Homo sapiens: one gene and its partner. Each later gene encodes a partner of the first gene's protein in a complex. Each region holds a gene or a part of one and is shown on either strand. Other genes may lie near its edges.

Region 1 (3,653 bases):
TCATTGTGCTTCCTTATTCAGCAGCTGGGAGAGGTAGGAAATTAGAGCCAGGAGGAATGTTTGACGTTACGTCATTAATCTCAGACATCTTGTAGATTAGGAAAAGTGACTTGGTCGAGGTCATACACCTATATAGTGACAAGTAAGAAGCTAGAGGAGTGCCGAGCGCAGTGGCTCATGCCTGTAATCCCAGCACTTTGGGAGGCTGAGGCGGGCGGATCACTTGAGGTCAGGAGTTCAAGACCAGTGTGGCTAACATAGTGAAACCCCCGTCTCTACTAAAAATAACAAAAATTAGCTGAGTGTGGTGGCAGGCGCCTGTAATCCCAGCTACTTGGGAAGCTGAGGCAGGAGAATCAGTTAAACCTGGGAGGCAGAGGCTACAGTGAGCTGAGATCCCACCATTGCACTCTAGCCTGGGCAACAGAGTGAGACTCCAACTCAAAAAAAAAAAAAAAAAAAAAGCCTGGGTGTGGTGGCTCACACCTGTAATCCCAGCACTTTGGGAGGGCAAGGTGGGCAGATCACCTGATGTCAGGAGTTCAAGACCAGCCTGGCCAACATGACAAAACCCCGTCTCTACAAAAATTAGCCAGGTTTGATGGCAGGTGCCTGTTATTCAAGCCACTCACCTGTAATTCAAGCCACTTGGGAGGCTGAGGTTGGAGAATCACTTGAACCCAGGAGGCAGAGGTTGCAGTGAGCCAAGATCGCGCCATTGCACTCCAGTCTGGGCAACAGAGTGGTACCCCGTCTCAAAAAAAAAAAAAAAAAAAAAAGGGCCAGGTGTGGTGGCTCATGCCTGTAATCCCAGCACTTTGGGAGGCCAAGGCGGGTGGATCACAAGGTCAGGAGTTCGAGACCAGTCTGGCCAATGTGGTGAAACCCTGTTTCTACTAAATATACAAAAATTAGCCTGGTGTGGTGGCACGCGCCTGTAATCCCAGCTACCTGGGAGGCTGAGGCAGGAGAATCGCTGGAACCCAGGAGGCGGAGGTTGCAGTGAGCCGAGATAGCACCACTGCACTCCAGCCTGAGCAACAGAGCGAGACTCCATCTCAAAAAAAAAGAAGTTAGAAGAGTCAGTCATTCTCATAAAAAAGCCTGCATAATTTGTTGTTGTTTTTTTTTTAAGACAATCTTGTTCTGTCGTTTAGGCTGGAATGCGGTGGTATGATCTCAGCCCACTACAGCCTCTGCCTGCCAGGCTCAAGCAATCATCCTGCCTCAGTCTCCCAAGTAGCTGGGACTACCAGCATGTGCCACCACTCCCAGCTAATTTTTCCTTTTTTTTGTATAGATGGGTTTTCACCATGTTGCCCAGGCTGGTCTTGAATTCCTGAGCTCAAGTGATCCACCCACCTCAGCCTCCCAAAGTGCTGGGATTACAGGTGTGAGTTATAGTGCCTGGCCCAACGCTTAATAACTTTTTCCTGAAATGCAGATTAGTTTGAAATGAATTTTATTTACGGGTTCATTTTTAATGTTTGAACCTGCTTCTAGGTAGGGTTAAAGTTGGGTGACTTGATGACTCACGAAATACACAACTATGAAGTTTGGAAAGTGTGGTGGTATGCACCTGTAGTCCCACCTGCTCTGGAGGCTAAAGTGAGAGGATCACTTGAGCCTAGGAGGTAAAGGCTGCAGTGAGCCGTGGCTGTGCCACTGCACTCCAGTATGGACAGCAGAGCAAGACCCTGTATCAAAAAACAAATAAAAACAATAATAATTTTTTTTAATTAAAGGAGAAAAGTTTGGGAAGTTTGACTTACATATTTGATCCTCGAATAGGGAGTTATTTTGGTTTTGGCATTAGATAGTTTTGTAGCTTGGTTCATGGCACTTGAGCAGCAAATTCATGGCCCTTACACTGAATACTAAAATGTTATACAGGCCAGCCAGTGAAGCTAGTTGTAAGTGCAGAGATTCATAAACAGAGTCGTCCCGTGATTTGTCCGTGTCTCCCCGTATTAACATTTTACTCTTACTTGGCGAAGGGAGTTGGGCTTCCTGAGCATGGTCTCCGTGTTGAGGTGGCTTTTCCTTCTTTCCCTGCTTCTGTCACCAGCTATGTGGATTACCCCATCTATGACGTGCTTCAGATGGTGGGCCACGCCAACCGCCCTTTGCAGGACGATGAGGGGCGCTGTGTCATCATGTGTCAGGGCTCCAAGAAGGTCAGTCCTAGACTCATGGAGCCTCTTGGATCCGTAGCCTCAGAATGGATTCTTTAATCTTTCTTTTGATAGATGTCTTCAGTAACTTTAGTCTCTTAACTTCTGCCTCTCTTATTTACACAATTCTTTTGTGACGAGCCTGCCACCCACATGGAATTTTGCTGCCTTTTGCTTTTGCTGCTGCCGTTGGCTCCACGTGTTGAGGTCTTCACCCTCTACTTGGTTCTCTCCTTCCTCCTTGGGCTGCTCACTGCTCTGCCCTCGTGACTTGCTGTACCTCTGTTCCCACTGCGTATTGTCACCAGTGATGCACTTTCTAAATGTGTGGCTTCTTCCATTTTGGTATTAGTTAGGTCTCACACAGGGACCATGCCCTGTTGATTTGCCCTTGGCCCTCTGTGACCGTGTTGTCACTAATTCTTTATTACTCCTTCTCCCTCTCCAACCCACAGGATTTCTTCAAGAAGTTCTTATATGAGCCATTGCCAGTAGAATCTCACCTGGACCACTGTATGCATGACCACTTCAATGCTGAGATCGTCACCAAGACCATTGAGAACAAGCAGGATGCTGTGGACTACCTCACCTGGACCTTTCTGTACCGCCGCATGACACAGAACCCCAATTACTACAACCTGCAGGGTCAGTGGGCTTGGGAGCACACGTGATCCTTTGGTGGTTCTCACAGTCTTTGCTGGGCATCTTCTTGAGGCTCCCCACTCACCTCTCGCCTCCATAGGCATCTCCCATCGTCACTTGTCGGACCACTTGTCAGAGCTGGTGGAGCAGACCCTGAGTGACCTGGAGCAGTCCAAGTGCATCAGCATCGAGGACGAGATGGACGTGGCGCCTCTGAACCTAGGCATGATCGCCGCCTACTATTACATCAACTACACCACCATTGGTGAGGCCCGGCATGGCCCGTGTCCTGTCTGTGGGAGCCTTTTTACACGGGTCAGGAGCCCACTGGGATGAGAGGTGCGCCCGTGTTTGTCAGCGGGATGACACTGCAGGGGACAGCAGGGGAGCCCGGGCAGTTCTGCTCCTTCTCTGCCTGGTTTTAGCTTCTCTCACATTTCCTTTTTCTGTCAGAGCTCTTCAGCATGTCCCTCAATGCCAAGACCAAGGTGCGAGGGCTTATCGAGATCATCTCCAATGCAGCAGAGTATGAGAACATTCCCATCCGGCACCATGAAGACAATCTCCTGAGGCAGGTGAGGACAGCAGACTTCAGGAGAGCATCCTGGGAACAACAAACTCGGCCTGTGTGCCCAGAGCACATGGCATCCCTGCCACCAACACGCCCATACGCATCCCCCGACCCCCGCCATATGTCCTCCCGCTCCATACCTCCCTCAAACCCATCTCCATCCCATTACCACCCACATGCCTCAGGGTGTTGAAGGGCTGTGTGAGCCTGGGCCACGTGGTGCTTTGGCCTGAGCTGGTCTCAGGCAGGGTCACCTGTTCATCACC
Region 2 (3,653 bases), about 84 Mb from region 1:
AGAAAAAAAAAGAAGAAGAAGAAAAAAAGAAGTTAACTCTCCTTCCCAGTGATTGCACATTGTTGAATGACCTACAGTGGCTTGTACCTGAGACCACCCAAAAGACAACACAGTGATGCATTTTGTATTTCAGATGCCCATGCCTTAACTTGAATAATATTTTCAATTTATTGTCCACTTGTATTTAAATGGAATTTTGTACTACTCATCATATCCCTAACTTGGTCATGGTTTGTTCATGGTGCCTGGAGCTAGTCCGAGAAAGAAGTGGCTATTGGTAATACATTCATGCATCCCTCTTATAACTTTGAAGCCTCCCTTGTCGAATTTCCCTACTTTTCTGTTTATCTGAGCATGGGAGGGTGGTGGAACAATAAAGCCAGAGAGCATACTAGTTTCAGCAAACTCCCAGACTTAAACTTTTTCTCAGTATGTACATTTCCCAAGTGGACATTGGAAGAGACATTTGAATACCTACAACAAAGTACAAACTTTAAGCATGGATTATAGCTAGCCTTTATATAATAAAGTTAATAAGTCTTTCCTAGTGAACAGATACCAAAAACGGGGTATGGGCTGCCTTGGCCTTGGGACATATTAACTCCTGTGGAATGGGTTAGCTAGTGGGGAGGAGGAACTCGGTGACTCATGTTTAACCTGTCTTTCAGCCTAACTTATAAATGGGTGGAGCTAGACAGAGTTCAGCACTTCCACCTGAAAAGTTACCCTGTGAGTCCTTCCTGAAATAGTTTGTCAGGATAGCTTTATTTTAGACCTGGCTACAGGAGCCTCTGTAGTAGAATGCAGTGCTTGCATGTCTAGGGGCTAAATTTCTCTGTGGAGGCCAACACCTCCAAGTTTTCTTTAAACCAGAATGTGGTTTACTACGTGGCTCTCTAATTAAATAACCAGGTGACTTTCAAAGCTGTGCCTTGAAAATTGGCAGAATGTGTTCACCCATATACTTAATTAGGCAAGCTGAGGAACAGATTTGGGACAGGAGAGAGTGGTTTGAATGTGTGATGAAGGCATATGGCATATTCAGTAATTAGGGTTGATTTTGTAAGTTAAAAGAACTGCACCTTCAGGGACAGATTTCCTTTTGCAGTGCCTGCAAAGGAACTAGTATTTTTTTCATCTCACTCAATGAGGAAGTGTTTTCAAGCTGTTCCACAGGTTAACATGGAGTGAAGACTAATAGGGGGTGGCATCTGATAGTGTTGTCTTGATGTACTAAGACTTGGAAATCTTAGTATTTCCAAGAAGTAGGAGTTAATAGGTGAGACAACGCTGCTGTTGTATTCCTTGATGAACAAGTTGACAAAATGGCATTATAGGAAGTTCTATGTAGGCAGAAATTGGAGTAATCAGCAGAAATCTACACTCCCCGTTTTTTATTTAATTTTAGACTTGGAACTTATTAAGTAGCAGACACTGTCCTAGGTTCTGGATATGTAGCAGTGACCAAGAACCTTGAGGATCCAGTGTACTCATACAGAGCCTTTCATAGTTTAGCTTAATGAGTCTCTCATGTTCCATCTTATTCATGTTCAGTTTTTCATGTACACCTTGGAATCCCCAAATTCTCTGTCTCTGAGTCTTTACACATGCTTATCGTATTTCCTGAATGACCTTTTCCCCTTTCGATATGGATAATTCCTACTTGTTCTTTAAGACTCAGCTTCAAGACCTACTTCTTTCTGTATGTCCCAAACCCTCTTTTCCAGTAACACTTGTTTATGACATTGTTGTAGCACTTAGACATTTCTTCTTTACCCAAGGACAGAGTCCTCAATGCCTTGTCTGTTGTGTAATGTATATATCTCCCCACCGTACATAGACACTGCCTTTAGTAAAGACCATGACTGTACTTTTTCTCTTAGCTTCATACTTCCTCATTTTCTCTGTAAGCATTTTTCTTTTTTCATCTTCTTTTACTATTGTTTTGAGATGGGATCTCACTATGTTGCCCAGGCTGGGACTCTAGGCACATGCCACTGCACCCAGCTTTTCTCAGCCACTGAATATAAATATCAATTATGGCCCTAGCCTAAATGGAACCTTCCCCCAGCCTCCTATATACAGTGACAGAATGAGGGGGAAACATGGGCAGATTTGGTAGAATCAGTAGGATTTGGTGACTTACAGGGAGTAAGGAAAAGGAAATTGCCACCTGGGAAGCTTTGTAAGTCATATCTTAGAAGAAGAGCTGGTTTAAGATGGGGAGAAGGAAATAATTAGTTCCACTGTGGATTTCTTTAGTTCAGATGGCCTTTGGCACATCCACTTAGAGGTTTCCTGTAGCAAATTGGACATCATGATTTGGAACTCTAGAGAAGATTGGCTGGAGTAAAAAGTTGTTTTCGCATGTTAATTAAAGCTATGGGGATGGAGATGATCTTCCACAGATAATATGGAGAAAGAAAAGATAAGGACTATTCATTCATCCATTTAACAAATATGTATTGAGAGCCTCTAGTGTTGGGAATGTAGCAATGAACAAAACATAAATTCATGAGCAAATACTAAACTCTCAGGCATAGTAAATATTAAAGGGATGGACAAATGAAGGTGGTGTCCCTGTAAGTTGACAAGTGAGAACTTCAAGAAGGGGATTAGGTGCCAAATGCTAGAGCAATGTCCCATAAAAGAAGGAAGCTGCCCCTGGATTTAGCAACAAGAAAAAAAGTTACTGTGTAACATTGGTAAGTGCTGTGGAGTAGTGGGAAGGGAAAGCTGAATTACAGTGGGTAGGAGAGGTTAAGAATTAGAGACATCAGGCTGGACATGGTGGCTCACTCCTGGAATCCCAGCACTTTGGGAGGCCCAGGTGGGCAGATCACTTGAGGTCAGGAGTTTGAGACCAGCCTGGCCAACATGGCGAAACCCCATCTCTACTAAAAATACACAAAATTAGCTGGGCATGGTGGTGCGCACCTGTAATCCCAGCTATTCAGGAGGAGGCTGAGGCATGAGAATCACTTGAACCTGGGTGGTGGAGGCTGTGATGAGCTGAGATCATGCCACTGCGCTCCAGCCTGGGTGACAGTCAGACTCTGTCTCAAGAAAAAAAAAAAAGAAAAAAAAATTAGAGGCATCAAGTGTGAACTTACATATCACAAAATAGCTGTGTAGGGATGAGACAGTAAAACTAGAGAGGGGACAGGATAAAGGGAATTTGCCCCATAAATATCATAATTTATTTTTAAATGAATCATTAAAAAGTTCAACATGTAGAATTTTTCTTTAAAACCAACTTAAATAGAAATCAATACTGTACTGTAAATCAAGAGACAGCTTATTGAAATGTTGAAACTAACAAAAATAGACAAATTTCTATTCTCATAGATCCTGCATTCTGTTGAAAAGAAGCACATTGGGGAATCTTCCTATGCGTAAAAAAATTAATAGTATTTCCAAATGATTGGATCACTTAACTCTTTATTTGGTTACTTAAACAGCCTAAAATAGACTAGCTTCATGATACAGGAAATGAATGGGGGTAATACTACCTCCCAATTTATAATGTGAGGTTTTCAGTATAGATAATGGTGTCACTGGGTTCATTAAAATGTCTTTTTTTTTTTTCACTCCTCTGTGTCTTACTGTCTTAAAGTGTCTGAAAATTTGGGCTGTCTACTCTCCACACAGAG

What was found. Proteins that work in one complex are often made in the same cells at the same time.
Region 2: SNRNP200 (region 1) and CWC22 share a complex: the UniProt entries of both Homo sapiens proteins name them as parts of the minor spliceosome.

Annotation. Positions count from the first base shown.
Region 1 is NC_000002.12:96,277,975-96,281,627, reverse strand, and holds part of SNRNP200 (U5 small nuclear ribonucleoprotein 200 kDa helicase), read left to right. Parts: intron 1-2,068; coding exon 2,069-2,177; intron 2,178-2,629; coding exon 2,630-2,819; intron 2,820-2,916; coding exon 2,917-3,081; intron 3,082-3,269; coding exon 3,270-3,391; intron 3,392-3,653. UniProt on the Homo sapiens protein: Catalyzes the ATP-dependent unwinding of U4/U6 RNA duplices, an essential step in the assembly of a catalytically active spliceosome. Plays a role in pre-mRNA splicing as a core component of precatalytic, catalytic and postcatalytic spliceosomal complexes.
Region 2 is NC_000002.12:180,000,756-180,004,408, reverse strand, and holds part of CWC22 (pre-mRNA-splicing factor CWC22 homolog), read left to right. Parts: intron 1-3,653. UniProt on the Homo sapiens protein: Required for pre-mRNA splicing as component of the spliceosome. As a component of the minor spliceosome, involved in the splicing of U12-type introns in pre-mRNAs. Promotes exon-junction complex (EJC) assembly.